Linked DNA regions of Homo sapiens. The protein of the gene in region 2 purifies or fractionates together with the protein of the main gene of each other region. This does not show direct contact. Each region holds a gene or a part of one and is shown on either strand. Other genes may lie near its edges.

The links. The genes of interacting proteins can lie anywhere in the genome.
Region 1: the proteins of CSN1S1 (region 2) and FAM120A purify together in Homo sapiens (affinity purification with mass spectrometry; 2 studies listed by BioGRID and IntAct, with this or other methods). This does not show direct contact.
Region 3: the proteins of CSN1S1 (region 2) and ETV3 purify together in Homo sapiens (affinity purification with mass spectrometry; 2 studies listed by BioGRID and IntAct, with this or other methods). This does not show direct contact.

Annotation. Positions count from the first base shown.
Region 1 is NC_000009.12:93,510,685-93,517,684, reverse strand, and holds part of FAM120A (constitutive coactivator of PPAR-gamma-like protein 1), read right to left. Parts: intron 2,019-7,000; coding exon 1,918-2,018; intron 1,703-1,917; coding exon 1,416-1,702; intron 1-1,415. UniProt on the Homo sapiens protein: Component of the oxidative stress-induced survival signaling. May regulate the activation of SRC family protein kinases. May act as a scaffolding protein enabling SRC family protein kinases to phosphorylate and activate PI3-kinase.
Region 2 is NC_000004.12:69,940,990-69,947,134, forward strand, and holds the end of CSN1S1 (alpha-S1-casein isoform 1 precursor), read left to right. Parts: intron 1-29; coding exon 30-71; intron 72-1,056; coding exon 1,057-1,074; intron 1,075-1,546; coding exon 1,547-1,588; intron 1,589-3,860; coding exon 3,861-4,015; intron 4,016-5,206; coding exon 5,207-5,207; 3' UTR 5,208-5,585; downstream 5,586-6,145. UniProt on the Homo sapiens protein: Important role in the capacity of milk to transport calcium phosphate. Casoxin D acts as opioid antagonist and has vasorelaxing activity mediated by bradykinin B1 receptors.
Region 3 is NC_000001.11:157,128,396-157,135,395, forward strand, and holds part of ETV3 (ETS translocation variant 3), read right to left. Parts: intron 5,833-7,000; coding exon 5,717-5,832; coding exon of another isoform or gene 5,685-5,716; exon of another isoform or gene 4,750-5,684; intron 277-4,749; exon of another isoform or gene 1-276. UniProt on the Homo sapiens protein: Transcriptional repressor that contribute to growth arrest during terminal macrophage differentiation by repressing target genes involved in Ras-dependent proliferation. Represses MMP1 promoter activity.

The DNA of each region.
Region 1 (7,000 bases), on a different chromosome or scaffold from region 2:
CTTGTTGGGGTCATAAAGCTTACTTCTTTTGCTTTTTGTCTTACTTCTTACCTATGTTTCACAGTTTAGAAAGAACATTTCTTACTAAGACAAAAACTGTATTGTACAGACACTTGGACCTTGCTGACATGAGTCACGTTTTACAACAAAATGCACATGCCTTAGAAATCTGGCACATAAGGGCTTCCAAGACCATCAAGCAGTTGTTCTCAAACTTCAGTGTGCTAAAGACTGACTGAGGTGCTTATTTAAAATGCAAATTTGGGGGCCCCAACCAGAGATTCTGATTCAATGGGTACTCAATATATTATCTTGCTAGAGGTTAATTTAAAAATTTGAATATTCAATTGCAACTCTTTACTTCATTTTAGAGTCTTGGCATTGCATATACAGCAAATAAACATTTATTAATTTTATACTTCTCTGCACATACAACAAATCAACATTTATTAATGTTATACTTCTCTGCTATAAACAGGGTATGCATCCCTGGATGGCAGAGAGTCCTTCAGTAAGCTCTGCCCTGGGTCAACAGACATTTATTCCCATTTCACAGATGGACAGAGGACAGAGAGGAAAAGATCACCTGCTTCAGGTGACACACAAGGTAAGAACTGGCATGGAAGCTGACACCTATGTCTCTTACATTTCCTACATCAGAAACAGATGTAACATCAACCAGCCCTGGTTATCTGCGCTGTAAAGTAGAGTTCACACCAAGGAAAAGGAGACACTGACTTAAAGAAAAGAAATATTCTTTCCCTGTTTTTTTTGTTTTAAACATAAGACAATTTAAAGAAAGGGAGGAGTGCAAATTAAAGATTTCCTCGATCAAATTTTAACCAACTATGTATTTGTGAACCCATTTATTCAGGGACACACAGTGTTTAAAATACTCCTCTAAGGAAACAATTCCAGCCTGGGTCTAGGCAGCTTTCTAGGGTTTTGCTTGGGCAAACAGTGTTATTTCCAAAGTGTCCTGTAACCTGCTGAGTTTAGGAGAAGGAGAGGAAATTCAGAGCTCCCTTGATCCAGGAGCCAGAAGATTAATGTTTCGGGGGTCGGCAGGGGGTTGCTGTGACGGGTGTGAGTGGCACCACACCGGACAAATGCCCCCATGTTTTGGTCATCACACAAACCAGTTCTTGTCAAATTCCTCCCCAGAAAGTTTCCTGTGGCTCCAGGCCATGGGGCTGGGATAGTGCAGATTTTAAATCATGGAAACTTCAAGAACATACCTACTCTTCCTCTCTCCTCTCTGTCCAAGGAGCCCCCATCTGAGTACAGACTGACCATCACCCACCTGCAATAAACTACATCTCTGAGCAAAACACCAGCTGGGCTGGCAGGCCAGAAGGCAGCTTCCCCAGGTCACTACCCGCCAGGAAGCACCCAGCGACCCACGCACCACTCACTTTGTCGCCCCTCCGCTGCCCTCGTCGTTGTCGGAAGATGACGATGTAGAAGAGCCAGGGAAGTAGGCGGAATCCACGTGGTTGGGGCTGCCGCTCTGGGCCGGGTTGATGGGCGAGGACCGCTCATACAGCGGCGTGTGCTTCCCTTCGTGAGGAATGTTGCTGTAGCTGTTCTGCTCCGTCAGATTCTTCCCGCTCGTGTCCAAAGTGAGAGGTGCTGGCTCAGAGAGGCTGTACGGGTATGGACCCTGGCCCGGGGCGCCCCCTGGGCTGGGCACCTGTGGGGCCTGAAGCGAAGGGCACAGGTCACGCACACGTGGCCAGCAGGACCCGACTCAGGCCCAGGCTGACGTTTCCTGGCTCATTTTTATTTCAACAAACACTGGCATCTATTTCACGTATCAATTCAAGAGGTTAGGAACTTATTTTAGCATTCGTTGAAATTCAATGCACGCACCCTGTCTGAGACCCGCCACCCGACCCAACGCAGGGAAGGCCTTACCACGGGCTTTGCTTGCAGAGAGGTCTGCGGAATGTTGAGCATCTGAGGAGGAACATGCGGCGGCACCATCCCAGGCATTCCAAACGGACCGGGTCTGGCTGCTTCACCAACACAGAAAGAAAAGAATCACACAGCTGTGAACAGAATGCGTTTTCCAGGGCATCCTGGGGGCCAGCCCATGGCGCCAGGGATCTCACCCTCACCTGGCTCAGACATCGACACCACCATGGGTCCCACTTCTCAGAAATCATTACAAATTGCCATTTCACAGTAAGGAAAACTTAATTTTATGATGCTCCATTTGATGGACTCGGGCTGGGATTCTAACTTTCCAGATTTCTCAGTGAACTTGCCATAGTGGTTCTGCTCTCGTGTACTTCCTGAGGGCCTCGGCTGTCCCTCTGCCTGCAACTTGGTGGGGATTCTCTGTAACTCAGTCTCCCTGCTCAGGGCTGCTCCTAGCCTGAGGTCTCCGTGAAACCAGAAGCCCTGGCAGGCATGAAAGGAACAAAGTCGGACCGAACAGTTTCCTTTACCTTTGTCAAGCAAGAGGACTTTTCTATTTAAAGTACATTGCAACTACCATTAGGTTCTCAGCTAACTAGTGAGTTTTTAAATATAAAAGGAATTGCTTTTCATTGTTCAGCAATTAGGTTACACATTTTAACACATATACAGGATGAGTAATTTGTGATTCTGTGTTCTCTTAAAACATAATTTCATAAACCTGCCTGATGTGTGCTGCCATGTGCTAGTCATCATTCCCACGCTACCTTGCAAAAATGAAGAAATCTGTGAGAGGACTGAAAGCCACATAGAGGAATGGCTGAAGCAGGACAGCAGGACATGGAACCAGGCCAGCCTGAAGCTGGGACAGAAGGCAGGGGCTGGAAGCCTCCCCACTCAACCTCTGGCCTCGCGCGGCCTAACTAAGCACAGGAAGAGAGCTCAGGGGCCACGTCAGCCAACAGAAGTGAATGAGTGAGTAGATGGTGCCCATAAAGGGCTGTTCCAGAGACAGCACAAGACCCGCAGTAACAAGGACCGACTGGGGCCCAAATGATATGCAGGAAGCAGGAGGACATGGGACATGGACCTCTAGGAGCTGCACTCCCTCTCAGAACACTTAGGTGCTGAGGGCCTATGATGTGTCAAGCTGAGGACTGGGCCTGGGGATGAAAGGAGCCCTGAGGCGGTTTAAGTAAGATGCACACTGCTGAAGACACAGAGAAAATAGAAAACCTGTGTGAGACACAACAGATCCACCAGGGGCTTGCACGGCTGCACCATCTCTTCCTTGGGTTTGTTTTAAATGTGGAAGAAAACCAAGCCCAGAGCTTGCTGACTCCAATTTCCCTCTTTAAGCAGTAGATATGCTTCTACAACCTCTTCATCTGAACACCAGTTGATATGGTTAGGCTGCACATCCCCACCCAAATCTCATCTTGAATTATAATCCCCATAATCCCCACGTGTCTAGGCAGAGAGACTAGGTGGAGGTAATTGGATCATAGGGGCAGTTTCTCCCATGTTCTTCTAATGATAGTGAATGAGTTCTCACAAGATCTGATGGTTGTATAAGGGGCTCTTCCCCCTTCACTCGACACTTCTTACCGCTGCCTTGTTAAGAAGGTGCCTTGCTTCCCCTTCAACTTCTGCCATGATGCTAAGTTTCCTGAGGCCTCCCCAGCCATGCTGAACTGTGAGTCAATTAAACCTCTTTCCTTCATAAATTATCCAGTCTCAGGCAGTTCTTTATAGCAGTATGAAATCAGAGGAAAACACCAGGCAAGGGGAACACAACCCAAGAACCACCACCTCTCACACTGCCTACTGCCAATATAGGTAAGGACAGAAACATTCCCCAAACCTTCACTCTCGTTCTCTGAAAAGCAAATGTCCATGGCTGCATTCACAAGAGGTTCCCTAAGCCAACACTGGGCGTGGTGAGACCAGGAGTGCAAACGCTGTCCTTGGTCCGGCCTCCTGAGAGCCAAGCATGGTCAACAGACGCTGGGAGTGAAGCACAGATCATTGTTGACTCCCCCCAGAGAACGACCAGGAATCTTACAGACTACAATTTATCTGAGGTTCCTGCCTTCCAAGGGCCTTCAGCTCGCAAGCTTTAAACACCATAGCCCTTCGATCCTGGCTCGCATCAAGAAAAAACCTTGGCAGAGCTTCCACCTTTGTACCAAACAAAAACAACTGCAGTATGAGAAGCTGGGAATAATGAGACTGGCATGTGTGTAGTCACAGACACCTCACACTTGCATGCAACACGCACATAGACACACGTGCACACAACACATTCCTAACTGACCGATAAGTCCACAAGTCCGTGCCTCTAAGGGATGTGTGTGCATGATCAAGTGGTCACTCACACACAGGCGTAGATACACACAGAAGTGCACACAAACACACCCCACACGTGCATGCATGGCGCACACACACGCATGGCACAGACAATACAAGGAGCTGTTCCTAAAACAGTATGTTGGCTAGATCTGCACCTCCACGTGTGCGATCAAAGTCGCTATTATTTTAAAAAACTGTTCACAGGTGATTCTGATAGGCAGGTTTGGTCCAAAGAATATTATAAAATCTATTCAAGCTCCAACCATATAATTTAAATCAATGTAAAATGTCTAGTGTATAATATCTTGTGGCTGACCTCACTTACCTAACTTTGGAATAATACAAATCTAAGGCTAGACTCATGTAGCACCCGCATTCAAGTGAAGATGATCATTTTTGTTTTTTGATTTTTGGCCATTTCATCCTAAAACCTTCCTTGAAAGCACAAACTTTCCTTTAAAGCAAACAAACAAACTACATTACAGCATAAAACCAAAGAATTCCAAGGAAAGAATATTTTCTAAAATCACATTCCAATCATTGACCTCAAATAATCCTCTGTGAATCCACAGAGCAAGCCACTATTCTATTAAAGCAGTCCAATAAGTGAATTAATTTGTCTGCATTTTCTGAAGGCTGCAGAAGTGCCTCCTAACCCAGGGTCTCCCTCTGCGGATTCAGGCCTTCGTCTATATCGGTTCTTGTTCTCCATGCCCAAGTGCAGCTGAGCAGAACCACTGTGTGTCCTCTCTACAACAAGAGGCATCTTTCTCAGAAGGGACACGGGGCTCCAGAGTAGAGGTCACACCACCAGTTTCTCACTCTCTTCCTTTCACACTTACTAGAGAGGTGGGCTTTCGGTAAAAAAAAAAATATGCAGACTGAAGACAAGAAGCAAAAGAAGAAAAAAAGGCCAAAAAAGTTTACTATATTTCAAAATATTTCGTAACTTTAAAAATAGTTTTTAAATAGTGAGAAGTTCTTTCAGAATGAAAAGAGACATGCACTGCAATCCCTCGGCTGTATGATCTTGACTTGTTACAGCTCAGTCACCTACTTCCTCAAAGGACTCACTTACGCCTATATGCAGCTGTGTGGCTTTTGCTCTGAATTAAAATACGGTAAAATTCTTTAAAGAAATGGTGTTAAACTGGAACCTCTTCTTAGAACTACAGTCGGCCTTACCCCAGTCCCCATTCCTAGCCCAACCTAACAAATGTTCCTCTATTACTTGGCATATGATCCTGAAATGTTAAACAAAACAAAGAGTAACAAAGTTAAGTCTTAAAAAACAAAAAACAAAACAAAACAAAAAACTGGCCTGGTTCAGTGGCTCATGCCTGTAATCCCACCACTTTGGGAGGCCAAGGCAGGCGAATCACTTGAGGTCAGGAGTTCAAGATCAGCCTGACCAACATGGCGAAAGCCCGTCTCTACTAAAAATAAAAAAATTAGCCAGGCATGGTGGCAGGCGCCTATAACCCCAGCTACTCGGGAGGCAGAGGCTGAAAATCGCTTGAACCCTGGAGGCAGAGGCTGTAATCAGCAGAGATCGTGCCACTGCACTCTGGCCTGGGTGACAGAATGAGACTCCATCTCATAAATAAATAAATAAACAGGCAGACATTGTATGATTTTCAAGTATCACCCAAAAAATATAGCTTTGAAGATGTCGAGTCCAAGATTAAACAAATCAATATAATCCCTACCACCTTTAATTTTCATCGCTTGCAAACACAGACAAGGCAAAACATTCCAACCATTTTAAGCATGTGCAAACAGACATGTTTACTAAATCTCAATAGTCTACAGAAGATAAAAAGTTATAGAAAGGAAACTGTCATGTGACCTGTTCCCGTTACACTACAGATCCAGTGTCCAGAGAGGCAGGGTGGGGCCTTGGAGCACAGTGGGAGGGCGCGGCGTCTGGCCATCCTATAGGGAGAGGAGGCCCCACAGAGCCGGTCAGGCTGGCCAAGCCTGGACTGAGACCAGGTGCAATGTCAGTGCCCAGGGAGGCAAAGGATGGAGGAGCAACTCCCAAGAGCTAAGAGCCTGGGAGCAGCTGATGCTGGCCCAAAGCCTGCGGTGTTGGCCAGACCCCAAGGGAAGAGCCAGAGGCCGGCGCCCAGAAGAGGAGGCCTGGTGACAGAAGGAGGCAAAACCTGAGGCATGATCAGCTTGAAGAAGGCTAAGTACAAGGCCCATGAGAAGTAAGATTATGAACTCAGTGAACAGGCACATCCTGCGTGGCACGTGAAAGAATTCGGAACAGCGGGAAAAATTAAACCACGGAAGCAAATTTCAAGTCAACAGAAACAAGAACTTTCTAAGAATGAGAGCAGTTCAACAATGAAAAGGGTTGCTTTACTGACTGCTGGACTGCTCATACAAGAACATTCTACAGCAGGGAGCTGGGCTGAACTTCTATAAACATTCCTCACTCCCCAAATCCTTTCCATCCCTGAATGTGGATAGTGAGAGGGTAGACATCACGAGATACGGCATCATTCGAATCTACCCAGTGCCCCAGTCTCAAGTAGCAAGTTTTATCTAAATGTATTCAGTTCCTGGGTTTAATTAATCAGTTTGAACAGAATACTTGTACTGACTGAGCAAAGTTCAAGAAGGCAGAATAGGAACATTACATCTCATCAAGGCTGGTTACGGTGGCTCATGACTACAATCCCGACACTGGGGGCTGAGGCAGTTCAGACCAGGCCAG
Region 2 (6,145 bases):
CAATTGAGAATATTTTTCTTTTTAAATAGGAACAGTTTTGTAGACTGAACGAATACAACCAACTTCAGCTGGTAATATTTTATTCATTATAATACAAAATCATATTCTACTATAGAATTAAAACATATTAAATTTTAAATTGGGGCCATTTCTAAATATATTTTTATTTTTCTTAAGAAATTATTTATTCTAGCCTTGACCAATAATTGGCAAGTTATTTGTATGATTGCCGGCATATTTGCGGGCAATGCTCATTCTCTTTATTCCTGGACTAAAGTTCTATATATTATCCATACTTACTAACCAGGGAGAAAGTGACTACATTCTACTGCAAATCCACTTTTAACCTCCCTGATGATACATTATGTCCTGGTTGAGAATTTCACAAATATGCTTACCTGTGAAATCACAGATATGTCAAATAAACTTTCCATTTAAGGAAACAGGATAGATTCTGGGAAAGGAAACAGGAATGCTAAACATCAGATTTGCTTCTGTCAAAACTCACATAATCTGCTTAACACTGGTTTTGACCCTTTTGAGTAACATAAAAGTCTTTCTTTTGGGAGGACAATAAAAACCTTTCAGTAACTACAAACAAATTTGACGTAATGAAGGCTTTGGGAAATGCTTGGTTTTAGTTCAGCAAAATTGCATGCTAGCATTTTTAATCGTTATCAATAGAGGAAGATGAAAATCAGTAATGAATTTAATATGGACCCTAATTGTTACTCTAGTTTCCATTTTCAGGTAACTTGTGTTTAAAATAGTATCCAAATAAATTTAAACACATTAGTACCCCAATAGAATTCATCATTATTGATCTAGAAAATTACCTGAATAATATATTTTAGTACCATAGATATGATATGGCTAGTCTGTAACCTCCACAACTGTTAGAACCTACTTGTCCTCCTGAGAGATTTTGTAGTATTTTACAGTGGTATCTCCAGTATTTAACATTGTCCCTGAACAAATGAAGGTACCCAGCAAATGTTTCTTATTAATGAGTAAATAAAATGAAAATACTAAAACAGAATGTTTTCTCCTCCCTAGCAAGCTGCCCATGCCCAGGTGAGATTATTTATTAAATCTAAAATATTTTAGTATTTCCTTCATGTGTTATGTTTTTATAATGCATGATTCTCTTTTAACATAAATATATTCTGAGAGAGTGTTCTACCAACACTATCTGATAATATTTTACTTAAAAGTCACAAAAGACAAAATTTAAATAATTAATAAATAGCCATAAATAGAAAAATATGTAGTCCTAGAGAAATGGTAGGTTATTATTTTTCCTCAGAGTATGAACCTTACTAATTGTTTATTTTTCCAAACTATAGTGAGCTTAGCCTTTAGCTAAAATTTTTTTCTGACATTAGAAAATAAAAAGTGTTTTGACATTTTTTGCTAACTGTGGCATAGAATACAGTCTATTCTAAATTTCATGAATGATGTTATGTATACTTCTGGTGCAATGTAAGATAAATGTGTTGTACCAGAAGATGTCTAAGTAATTTAGAATGTGTTTCCTTTTATGCAGGAGCAAATTCGCAGAATGAATGAAAACAGCCATGTCCAAGTGGTAATATTTTGCTTAATATATTACAAAACGATAATATTTTGTTAAGCTTAAATATGTTTGCTCTTAAATAGCCCCCTACTCTTGAAGAGATTTTTTTCTTCTCAAACATTTCTCACTCCCAACTTAAATCTCAGTTCTGACAACTTCTAAGCATATGACCTTGAGCACATTGTGTATTCTCTTGGACCTTTGGTTTCTCATTTGTGGAGAAAAACAATATGTGTCTATCAATTTATTTCCTCCTCCAAAACTCCCATGTCTTGATGTTTACAGTGACATATTGTGTCTTCACATTTAAAGATAATAACTGTATGTTTAATTCAGTGTCTCTTGTCCATTAATGATTCAATTTATGTACAACATGCTAATTAAAAAAAAAAAAACCATGTAAAGAAAGCCATGGAACATCCTCCACAACTAGAGAAAGAAACTTTTAGTTCCTCACAGTACATCAAATTTTACCCTCAGTTTTTTTTTTCTGAAATTCTGTAATCACTGTCACTGGCTAAAGTAAAAAGAAAATAAAGGCAAGTATTCTCTTCATTTGGGCCCCAAAGAATTACTTGGTCTTAATTTTCCATGTGAATATTATTATTATTATTATTATTATTATTATTATTATTATTAGACAGATTCTCACACTGTTGCTGAGCTGGAGTGCAGTGGCACAATCTCAGGTCCCTGCAACCTCTGCCTCCCGGGTTCTAGTGATGCTCATACCTTAGCATCCCAAAGTAGGTGGGATTACCGGCAAGCATCACGATGCCCAGCTAATTTTTGTATTTTTAGTAGAGACAGGTTTTCACCATGTTGGCCAGGTTGGTCTCAAACTCCTGACCTCAAGTGATCCACTCGCCTTGGCCTCCCAAAGTGCTGGGATTACAGGCATGACCTATTACTTCAATGTAATTATTTTTAAAAAAAGTGTGACAACTATATATGCATTTTTCATATTAATGAGGGTTTGGAGTAGCAATAATTTGCCCTATCCTCATGTTCAGTTGGATGTAAATTACTAAACTAGTGCCTTAGTTTGTTTTGTGCTGCTATAGCGGAATACCACAGACTAAGTAATTTATAATGAACAGAAATTTATTTGGTTAACAGTTGTGGAGGCTGTAAGTCCAAGATTGAGAGGCCAACATCTGTCAAGCTAGGGCCTTCTTGTTTCATCATCCCATGGTGGAAGAGCAAAAAAGAATACACAAGAGAGGGTCAAACTCAGTCAAAACAAACTCACCCTTGCAACAGTAAGCCCACTCCTATGATAATAGCATTAATTAATTTGTGAGAGCAGAGCCCTTGTGAACTAATCAGTTCTTCAAAGTCCCACTTCTCATCACTGTTGTATTGCATGTTAAGTTTCCAACATATGATCTTTGGGAAACACATTCAAATCATAGACACTTATTTCTGTCTGTCTGTCTGTCTCTCTCTCTCTCTCTCTCGGTCTCTCTATTAAGAACAGGGCCAGTTCTATCTTGAGGTAGTTACCTTATTTTATCTTAAAAAATTCTAGATTTTATATTTGTTTTAATCTTTACATAGGCAGGTGTCCACAGCAACATTTTAAATGCTTTTAAAGATTTTCCTAATTCCAGCAAAGAACTTCCACCTGAATATGTAGAGAATTATATGCAACTGTTTCTATGAACAATGCAATTATTAGTACACAGAAAAAATTAAGTGTAATCTCATTATGAATCAACAGAAGCAACTATTCCAAAATTATAGAAAGGAAAATAGTTTTGGCCCCAAAACTCTAGTGTTTGAAAAGAACAGTGGCCTAGGAATTAAAGAATTATTATTTTTTTCTGTTCCTGGCATTTCTGAAAGACAGCTATGTTGACCCTGGGTGCGGGGCCTGTACTTTGACCCCAGTGGCTTTAAGGAAAATTATATATCTAAATGGCAAAAATTCCCTTGAGTTTATAACGTAAATAATAATGAAATGTATGCTACTACTCTCTTCTGGGCTCTGATAAGTGGACCTGTGAGTAATGTGGGTTCTTGGAGTTCAGTTTTAAATAATGTCCTTAAAAAAAGTGATTTATTCATTGCCCCTCAGGTGTCTTAAAAGAGCACCTTCTGAAAGTTTCTTCAACATGGTTCACCATAGAAGATTTTGATTTATTCTTTTCCCTCACAGAGTAATCATTTTTTATCATGCTAACAGGCATCTTGGAAATGAATGAGATGTATTGATATTTTTCAGGGACTGAAAAAAGCAATTGCTCATACACTGTTGCTTTTCAAATGTTTTTCCCTCTAGCCTTTCCAGCAGCTCAACCAACTTGCTGCCTACCCCTATGCTGTTTGGTACTATCCACAAATCATGCAGTATGTTCCTTTCCCACCGTTTTCCGACATCTCCAATCCCACTGCTCATGAAAATTATGAAAAAAATAACGTCATGCTACAGTGGTGGTAAGTTCATTTAAATTACTACATCTTGATGTTCTACCAAAGGAATGAAATAGAATAGCTTGGAGAGGATACCATAAGAACAGATTTAGATTAAACATGGCAAATCAATGCCTACTGCAAAGGACTAATATGTTCTGAAATGGAAAATTGATAATATTTTGTGGGACCTGTGGCTAATATTATCAATTTCTTAGTAACATGTGGAACAGTATTATCTATTCTATAAGTGATATTTATTCTAATGAGCCTGGAAAATAACTTCTTTTCAAGTTAAAAATATAAAGACTTCTGACATGTAATTCAACATTATCCTTTTTGCGCTTTTACTAATCTTTAAATGACTTCCTTCTGGTTATACCTATGATAAGTATAAAAACACTGGGTAGGTAATATAGCACATATTTTGGTGTTCAGTAGTCCTAAATTCAAATCCTAACCTTTTTGCTTACTTGAAATTTTATAATAATCCTTATTTATTATAATCCTGAGGGTGATCAAATATAGTAATCTCTGTTAAGTATATTGTGGGCAAAATAAACACTGAATAGGTAAAAGTCCATTTTTTCCTGATTTAGCAAATCTTTATTAATGACTTCCTTTAATCACATGATTTTAACAATTTTCATTATTTCGGAAGAATTAAGTAAATTCTCAAGGAACTCCACAGTTAGGGCCCTTGGTAAGTTTGGAAATTATGTATCTAACCATTGATCTTATTTTTTATGGTCAAATAGACATCCTTAACAAGTCACATAGATAAATAAAGTGTTAGTCTGTCAACACCACTTAAAAAGGTCTATAAGTTCAATTATTTTCACCACTACATTGGAGCTTCCAATTGTGTGTTTGTGTGTGTGTGTTTCCTTTTCCAGTGGTGGAAACTTCCCTTCTAATACATTAAACCAAGGAAAATGACCAAATTTTAACCTATGTGAAAGCCTTTTATTCTAATTGCATTGCCATATCTTCAGTAATACCACAAAACAAAATACAATTTAGTAATAAAAATGTCTTTGTAGCTTAAAAACCAAGAGCAATGGATAGGTATGTCAGTAACAGGAAAGCATAAATAACATTGTGAGCTTGTCTAATACGAAGAGAAAATAGTAAAACGTGTTCTACCATAAGAGCTTTTCTTTTCTTCAAAAATATTTAATATAACTCACCACATATTTCTATTTCTATTTACAGATATGATTGAAAATTTCATTCTCTGAATTTCTCCTCTCAAGGAAAACCATCTTATCTGAAGACTGGACTGTTGTTTTAGAATAGTAAAATCCCATATTGAAGGAAATTGTTCTTTTTGAGTTATCTACTTAATAGCATATCATTCTTTTTCTTAAGCTAAATTTTCCTAGAGAGTTTATTGTCTAAATTTCAGTTGTGTCTTGCCATATGGAGGGCACCTAATCAGAGGGTATTAAAGTGTTTACTAAGTTTTCTAGTGGACATTTTGTTTAAAAAGTCTTTGAATTGCCAGTTCTGTAAGTGCCATCAATTAAAATAGTTTTGTGCAGTGACAGAGATTTTCTTTTTTCTTTTCAATAAATTACACTTTAAGGCAAAAGCCGTATTTTCCGTCATCATTCCATTCAACAGTATTTACATAATCATCTTAAGAGTCTTTGCATGTAACATTTGTTTTCATTAAATTAAAATCCATATTTTCTGTCATTATTCCATCACCAGTATTTACATAATCCTATTAATAGTGTCATGTATGTAACATTTTGTTTTCATTAATTTTTTATGACAATTTCAATCACATTTTAGTGAAGAATTGTAGAACTGTTCACTTCTGGATGGCACTAGCAGCCAGATCATAAAAGGCATTTATAAACTTGTCCAATATCTTTAATTTATAGTCAGTGGTTTGTAGAACATTTTCCATGAGGACATTGTCAGAGCTGCAGAGAGGAACAACAGTGTGGCAGTTGTGGGCACACTAGAGTTTGAGCAACCTGACTATACAGTTTACTTATGCCATCTGGACCTGTTTGAGTCCAATCCGGTTGATTATACCTAAGTTTATAGCTAGAGAAATAGATAATAGTCATTAAAAGATCAGCTCAGGAACACAGTAACCTGGTGTCCTTCAGAGCTGAAGTAGGAGCTATTTCTCTAAAT
Region 3 (7,000 bases), on a different chromosome or scaffold from region 2:
TTCAGAAGTGTGCCCAGTGCCACACTGTGGAAAAGGGAGGCAAGCACGAGACTGGGCCTAATCTCCATGTCTCTTTGGGTGGAAGACAGGTCAGGCCACTGGATTCTCTTACACAGATGCCAATAAGAACAAAGGCATTACCTGGGGAGAGGATACCGATGGAGTATTTGGAGAATCCCAAGAAGTACATCCTTGGAACAAAAATGATCTTTGCCGACATTAAGGCAGAAAAGGGCAGACTTGATAGATTATCTCAAAAAAGCTACTAATGGATAATAATTGGACACTGCCTTATTTATTGCAAAACAGAAATGCCTCATGACTTTTTTATGTGTACCATAATTTAACAGATCTCATAAACCAGAATCCAGATCATGAATGACTGACAGATTTTTGTTGGGCAGTCCTGATTTAATTAAGACTGACTTGAGATTAGATGAATATGTTTGGCTTTTGGAATTTTAACGGTAATTCCGATTTAGTAAATGCTATCTATCACTGTTTACCCCTTCTAAATATATGACTGGACTTCATTAGTAATGTTCAACTTTTCACAAAGATGATGAATGCCATCTTAAAACTTAATGGAGAATGGTTTTATATTTAGATTTACATAACTAGTTATGTGAATATATTTAAATACTGGGGAAAGTCCTTCACTGTCTTAGAACCAAGCAAGATTCACCAGTGTTTTATGTTCATTTGCCTCTTAAAGGCAAGGGCTGAAGATAAGGCAGCAATGTCTACTTTATATTTTTGGTTTTAACAATAATAGCCAATTTAATTAGAAATCTGTATCTAAAGTGATTTCTTTTACTTATTGAAAGGCATTTTAGTGGGTTTATGTGTAATATCAAATAAAGATTTAACACTTCTCACATTTTATAGGTGATCTATAGGATCAGATGCTTTAAAAATAGTAGCAAGTTAAACTTCACTCTTGAATTCTTTACCATCTAATTCAGACTAAGTTATAATTTGGGATTGCCTCTAAACAGCCATTCAGAAACATAACACTGTAGAACTGCTGTGTATTTGTGATTGGAAATGGTGCTTTTGCCAATTTAAAAGGAATTAAGTAGAGGAAATATAAACAAATTTAAAAATTATGCATGATTATAAGACTTAAGATAATTAAAAACAAAATCACAGACTGGAAAAAAAATAAAGCCACTGATTTAATTTTAAAATTAGGAAGAACAGATGGATGACCTTGCAAATGATTTGAGTAGAGCCAAGAGGGTCCCAGGCCAAATGTATTCTTCTACTAGCTTATTACAGTGGCTACAATTCTACCCTTTTTGATTCTTTTGGATCTTGACTTTCAATTAAGAGTACATCTACTCAAAAGCAAAAAGCCACTTCTATGTATTCAGAAGAAGGAAGTATAATGTGCAGGGAAAGGTCTTGTCTCCTAAGCAACTTAGAAATGCTTGGTTAAATCTAGTTTTGTTTTGTTTTTTTTTTGGAGACAGAATCTTGCTGTCGCCCAGGCTGGAGTGCAGTGGCACCATCTCAGCTCACTGCAACCTCCGCCTCCCAGGTTCAAGCAATTCTTCTGCCTCAGCCTCTCAAGTAGCTGGGACTACAGGTGCGCACCACCATGACTGGCTGATTTTTGTATTTTTAGTAGAGACAGGGTTTCACCATATTGGTCAGGCTGGTCTTGAACACCTGACCTCGTGATCCGCCCACCTCCGCCTCCCAAAGTGCTGGGATTACAGGCGTGAGCCACTGTGCCGGCCCAAAATCTAGTTTTTTATTAAAAAAGAAAAATAAACTGGAGGATATCTCAGTCTTTACATACGTTAAGGTATACTGTAAAGGAGACATAATAAGCAGTATTTTCCTGATGTATTTAGGTGGAGTAATGGGAGGTGAGACTAGAAGCAATACTGGGAAGCATTGCTTCTAGCATTCTGGAACCCTTATCTCTGATTAACTGAAGTAGCCCTACTTTTATATGTTGAGATATCAAACCTAAGATTTTGCTTAGAAAAAAAGTTTGCTGCTAAAAAAGAAAGTTTGAATACCATTGCTTTAGAAGTCCACCTCCATGAAGTCACCATGAAATTCAAGTACTGGGGTTGAAAAAACTGGGTCTGAATCTCAGTTCTGGCAGCTTCCACCTTGTAGCCTAGTACAAGTAGCACACTGGAATCTTTGACCCCCTCTGGCAAAATGGAATTCATAAGGTCCTTGCCTAGGTTCCAATCTTGGTCCTACCACTTACTAGTTATGTGCCTCTGGACAGCTTGCCTCTCTGTGCCTCAGTTTCCTTACCTGTAAAATAGGTCAGCACAGGGCCTATTGTTATGACGATTAACAGTTAATATTTGTAAAGCCCTTAGAATAGTACCAAGCATAGCAAATTGCATGTCATTGTTAAATAATTTTTTTATTAATCATGGTACAAAATTTAAACCCTAAAAAGACAACTGTCATTCGAATACGGACTATGTATTAGATAACAGAATTATATCAATGTTAAACATCCTGGGTGTGGTAATGTTATTGTGGTTATGGAGGAGAATGTCCTTGTTCCTGGGAAATACAAGCTGAAGTACACAGGGACGAAATGTCATGATGTCTGCAACTTAATCTCAAAAGATTTAAAAAGTATATATAAATAGAAAGAGATAAAGCAAATGTGGCTACAATATTAACCATTAGTGAATCTAGATAAAGGATATATGGGTGTTTACTGTCCTTCTTCCAGTATTCCTGTAGGTTTCGAGTTTTCCCAAATAAAAATTAAAAAACTGGGGTTGGTGGGAGTAGAGAGGCATAGACTGAGCGGTATCAAGTCCATCCCTGAACTGGTCTGTCCTGCCCCATCCTGACAGTATCTTCTGTATCTTTCCAATGTTTCTTATGCAAATATAAGAAAATATTTTAATAATGTGTTATACAGGATGCTTTTCATGATAAAATACACAGACCAGAATACCCCAACTGTCTCAACCCACCTTGTGGACATGATCTCAATGGCCTCCAGGATCTAAATCCACACAGCTCTATTTAGAGTACTTATCACATTTCACATTGTATTAAACCCGGCATATCTTATCTCTCCTGCTAAACTGTAAGTTCCGTGAGGTAAAGAACTCCCATTATCTGTTGAACAAATGAATCACAACCTAGAGGAGGAATGTATGATCTATTAAATAAGGGCTAGACTTCAACAGCTCGATCTCTCAGGAATTGTTTCCCTAGAAACTGTTCAATAGATAACTATTCAACCTACCCTGATCAGTCTTTAACTTTGCTGTCGTTTTCCTAATTTTATCATTTGTAAAATGTGGATATCAAGACATTCACTTCACTGGGCTGAAAAGTTGAATAACGTAATTCACAAAACTACTAAGCAAAAGTACCTCCATAAAGCAGATGTTCAATAAATGTTACATTCCTTTGTTATCATAAAGTTACCTTAAACAACATTTGGCCTCTCTGGTCAAAAGTTCTTTAAAAACTAATGACACCAGTTCTTTGCAGTTGTCTATACCTAGGATGTGAGCAACCAGGTAGTAGAGATAGATGTACTAAAAGAAATGTACACAGTTTTGCTTTCCTTGTGCTTTATTGAGACTGAGTCTCGCTGTCGCCCAGGCTGGAGTGTAGTGGCATGATCTCAGCTCACTGCGACCTCTGCCTCCCAGGTTCAAGTGATTCTCCTGCCTTGGCCTCCTGAGTAGCTAGGACTACAGGTGACTGCCACCTGTACTTTTAGTAGACATGGGGGTTTCCCCATGTTGGCCAGGCTGGTCTTGAACTCCTGACCTCAAGTGATCTGCCGGCCTTGGCCTCCCAAAGTGTTGGGATTATAGGCATGAGCCACCTGGCCCGGCCCCTTGTGGCTTTTTGATTAGGATCTTGAGCTTGGGTTAAAGATCAATGTTGGTTCAATCGCCTTCGGGCAGAACAGGTGTGCTGGGCCACTATTGTTAGGTTTCTAGATCAGATTCTTCACAGAGTGAGGATCCAGGTTTCCTTGCCCTGGAAAACCACATTACTTCCCAGGGCTTATGAATGCCCCATTCTAGGTTGTCCAAGTGGCTGAAGTTCTGGATTTTCAATAGATAAAAATGGGTCAAAGACAGAAGAACAAGACGAATGAAACATTTTTTTGGGAGTGGGGTGAAGGGGTATGAAAACCAACAAATTCTTTAAAATTGTTGGTATATACATCTAGATTCCCAATTCCTCTAGGCATACAAGGAAGGGGCAAGAGTGAGAAACAGAGGAAGCAAGATTTGAGTGGCGAGTACAGGTCTGATTTCCTAACGCCTCTCCCTCAGGCACAAGGAAAGAAAACAGGTTGTAATTAGAGAGATGCATTCCAATACCACTTTTTTTTTTTTTTTTAAATGCATGCCCCAGGGACAGGAGGGAGTGGTTACAGAAGTTGAGATGAAACTGTAATGATAGCAGAGTCAAGCTAAAACTGCCCTAACTTGTTGTGTAGTAATTACATATCTGCAATGGATCTCAACATTATGTTCTCTCAACCACACCCCCACTAATTTTTCAGGTTTCTTCCAGCTTTTCTGAGAAGTTGTATTACTGCATGATCAGCATTCTTTGCCTTAGCATACAAGGCCACAATGACAGAGTACTTACTGATGGACTGGTCAGAAAACAGTTAAATACAATCTACAGTAGTCCTTTCTTATCTGAGGTTTTGCTTTCCACTGTTTTAGTTACCCACAAAGGTCTGAAAATAGGTCTGTACAGTACACAAAGATATTTTGAGAAAGACCACATTAAGTTTATTACAGCATATTGTTATAATTTTTCTATTTTATTATTGTCATTAATCTCTTACTGTGCCTAATTTATAAATTAAACGTTATCACAGATACATATGAGTGGGGTTAAGGGAAGAAAAAACATCATATATATGAATGGAGTTTGGTACTATCTGTGGTTTGCGAATCTACTAGGGGTCTTAGAACATATACTGCTCAGATAAGGGGAACTACTGTATTTTCTTGGGCAGGAGTATGATTTGCATAAGGAAAAAAATCACAAACAAAAAACCACACAACAACAAAGTCTTTTGAGAGACTGCTTTCAACATCAAGAGAGAATGTGGGGAGCTGTGATGGAAAGCTATAACCAGGAAAGTCAAGAGGGGAAGCCCTACTGCACTTAACAGGAGAGAAGGTCAAGTAACCCCAGAATCTTTTTCTCTGAGGATTTGCTGTTGCAGATCAAAGACACTGCTTTTCACTGCAAACATGTGAACCTCCCCCTTCTCTGATCAAGGATGCTGTGGTTTTGATGATATTCACTTGATAAGGGAGAGCTTGGTAGTTTCACAGAAAATCGGAAGTGTTTGTAGAAACAGGTTCCCATCTATGAAAGAACCACTGGGCTGGGTGTTAAAACTGAGTCCTGAACGTAAAGATCATCACAAACCTATGAAACATCATTCCCAAACAAGATAGCGTAATAGTATCTAGGAGATTACAAACAATATGCAGAAAAGGGAACCAACCAAATAAACCAAAGAAATCTATCTTGATACTGAATAGCCTATAACTCTCCTTATAAGTGAGATGACTTGAGTAAGAACATTGAGGCAATCCAAAGGATCACATTATTTTAGTGTTTCTAAAATCTTCCTAAACATGCCATGTCTTAGATTTGGATTTTTAAAAATTCTTTTCAATTCAAAATTAATTCCCTACCAAAAGAGTTTGTATCTTACCACTTGACCGAATGTTGATGAATGGGTAGTTGGGCATCACCAGCTTGTTGAAGTTAAATTTATAGGTAAATCTTTTCCCTTTTGTTTTATGAAGGATCCTCTTGTTGTAATAGTATCTGTAAAAACAGGAATACATGTCCATTCGTCTTGTAGCTACTGACAGCTTTCAATACACTTAGGTAGCCACTGAGACCAACAATTCTTGCTCTGAGTATTACTTACAAAAATCACTACCAATCTTTCGCAGCCTGGCCCTCCAGGTAGATCTAGGAGACCTAACAGCTTAATTTTCTTACTCAATTTTCAACTCAGCTCGTTTTTGCCTAGAGGTTTACAAAGACAACTTCACTTTAAGATTCTGAACACTTATCCTAGCCCCAAACATTTTCTTCTCCATCTCTCTACAATTTCGATTCTACAGTCCATTTCCGTCCGGTTGCACTGCATGTCACTAACTGCTTAGTTTTTCTTTTTGGTCTTGCCCAGGTGGGGGCAGACAAATCACTAGGGAGACCTGATGTGGTTAGTCTGGAGGCCTAAGCTCAAAAGACAGACAAAGGAATGTACAACTGTTTTATGGTGGCAGGTCAAACAATGGCATGCCCTGATCTGGAAAACAGCAGCTAGTGTGGCCCGCCTCACCTTCAAAGACTCAAAGGGATGTGAAAGAATACAGCAAAGCCACTGTACAGAGTTTACATTTCAGGTCAGGAGAACTTCAATTATCTGGAACCTTTAGTCTTACATCTATGCAGTAGCAGAGGTCATAAACTGCCTTCTAGCCCCTTGAGGGCTAAAGGACTATGAAATGTAAGACCGACAAGGGGAAAAAAGAACCTGAGAAAACTTATAGTGATCAATCTTTAGACATATTGCAGCAGGCTATGGACAACCTGAGCTCACAGACACAGTTCCGGAATAGATAGGTCAGTATCACTGAATCTTCCTCCCGTGACTTGCTTCATCCTTTTCTAAGTTTCTTTCAGGGAAGCCCAAAGAAAGAAATTCTAACAGATTCTAATAGAGAAGTCTAAACTAATCCTTTGGATTATAAATGAACTCCAATCCATGTTTCACCATATACTCTCGCCCACTACAGAGCAGAATCAGCTGTCTGTCAGGATCCAGTGCCAGCCACATTGGAATCCCCTCCTACGTATAACCAAAGATATGCCTTTTCTCCTCCTGTGCCTATGCTACTCACATTCAACAGCTCTTCTACTCCCACTTTAAAGTGACACATTATTCACTAAGATAGTGTAGTCTTTTATTACCTGATACCCT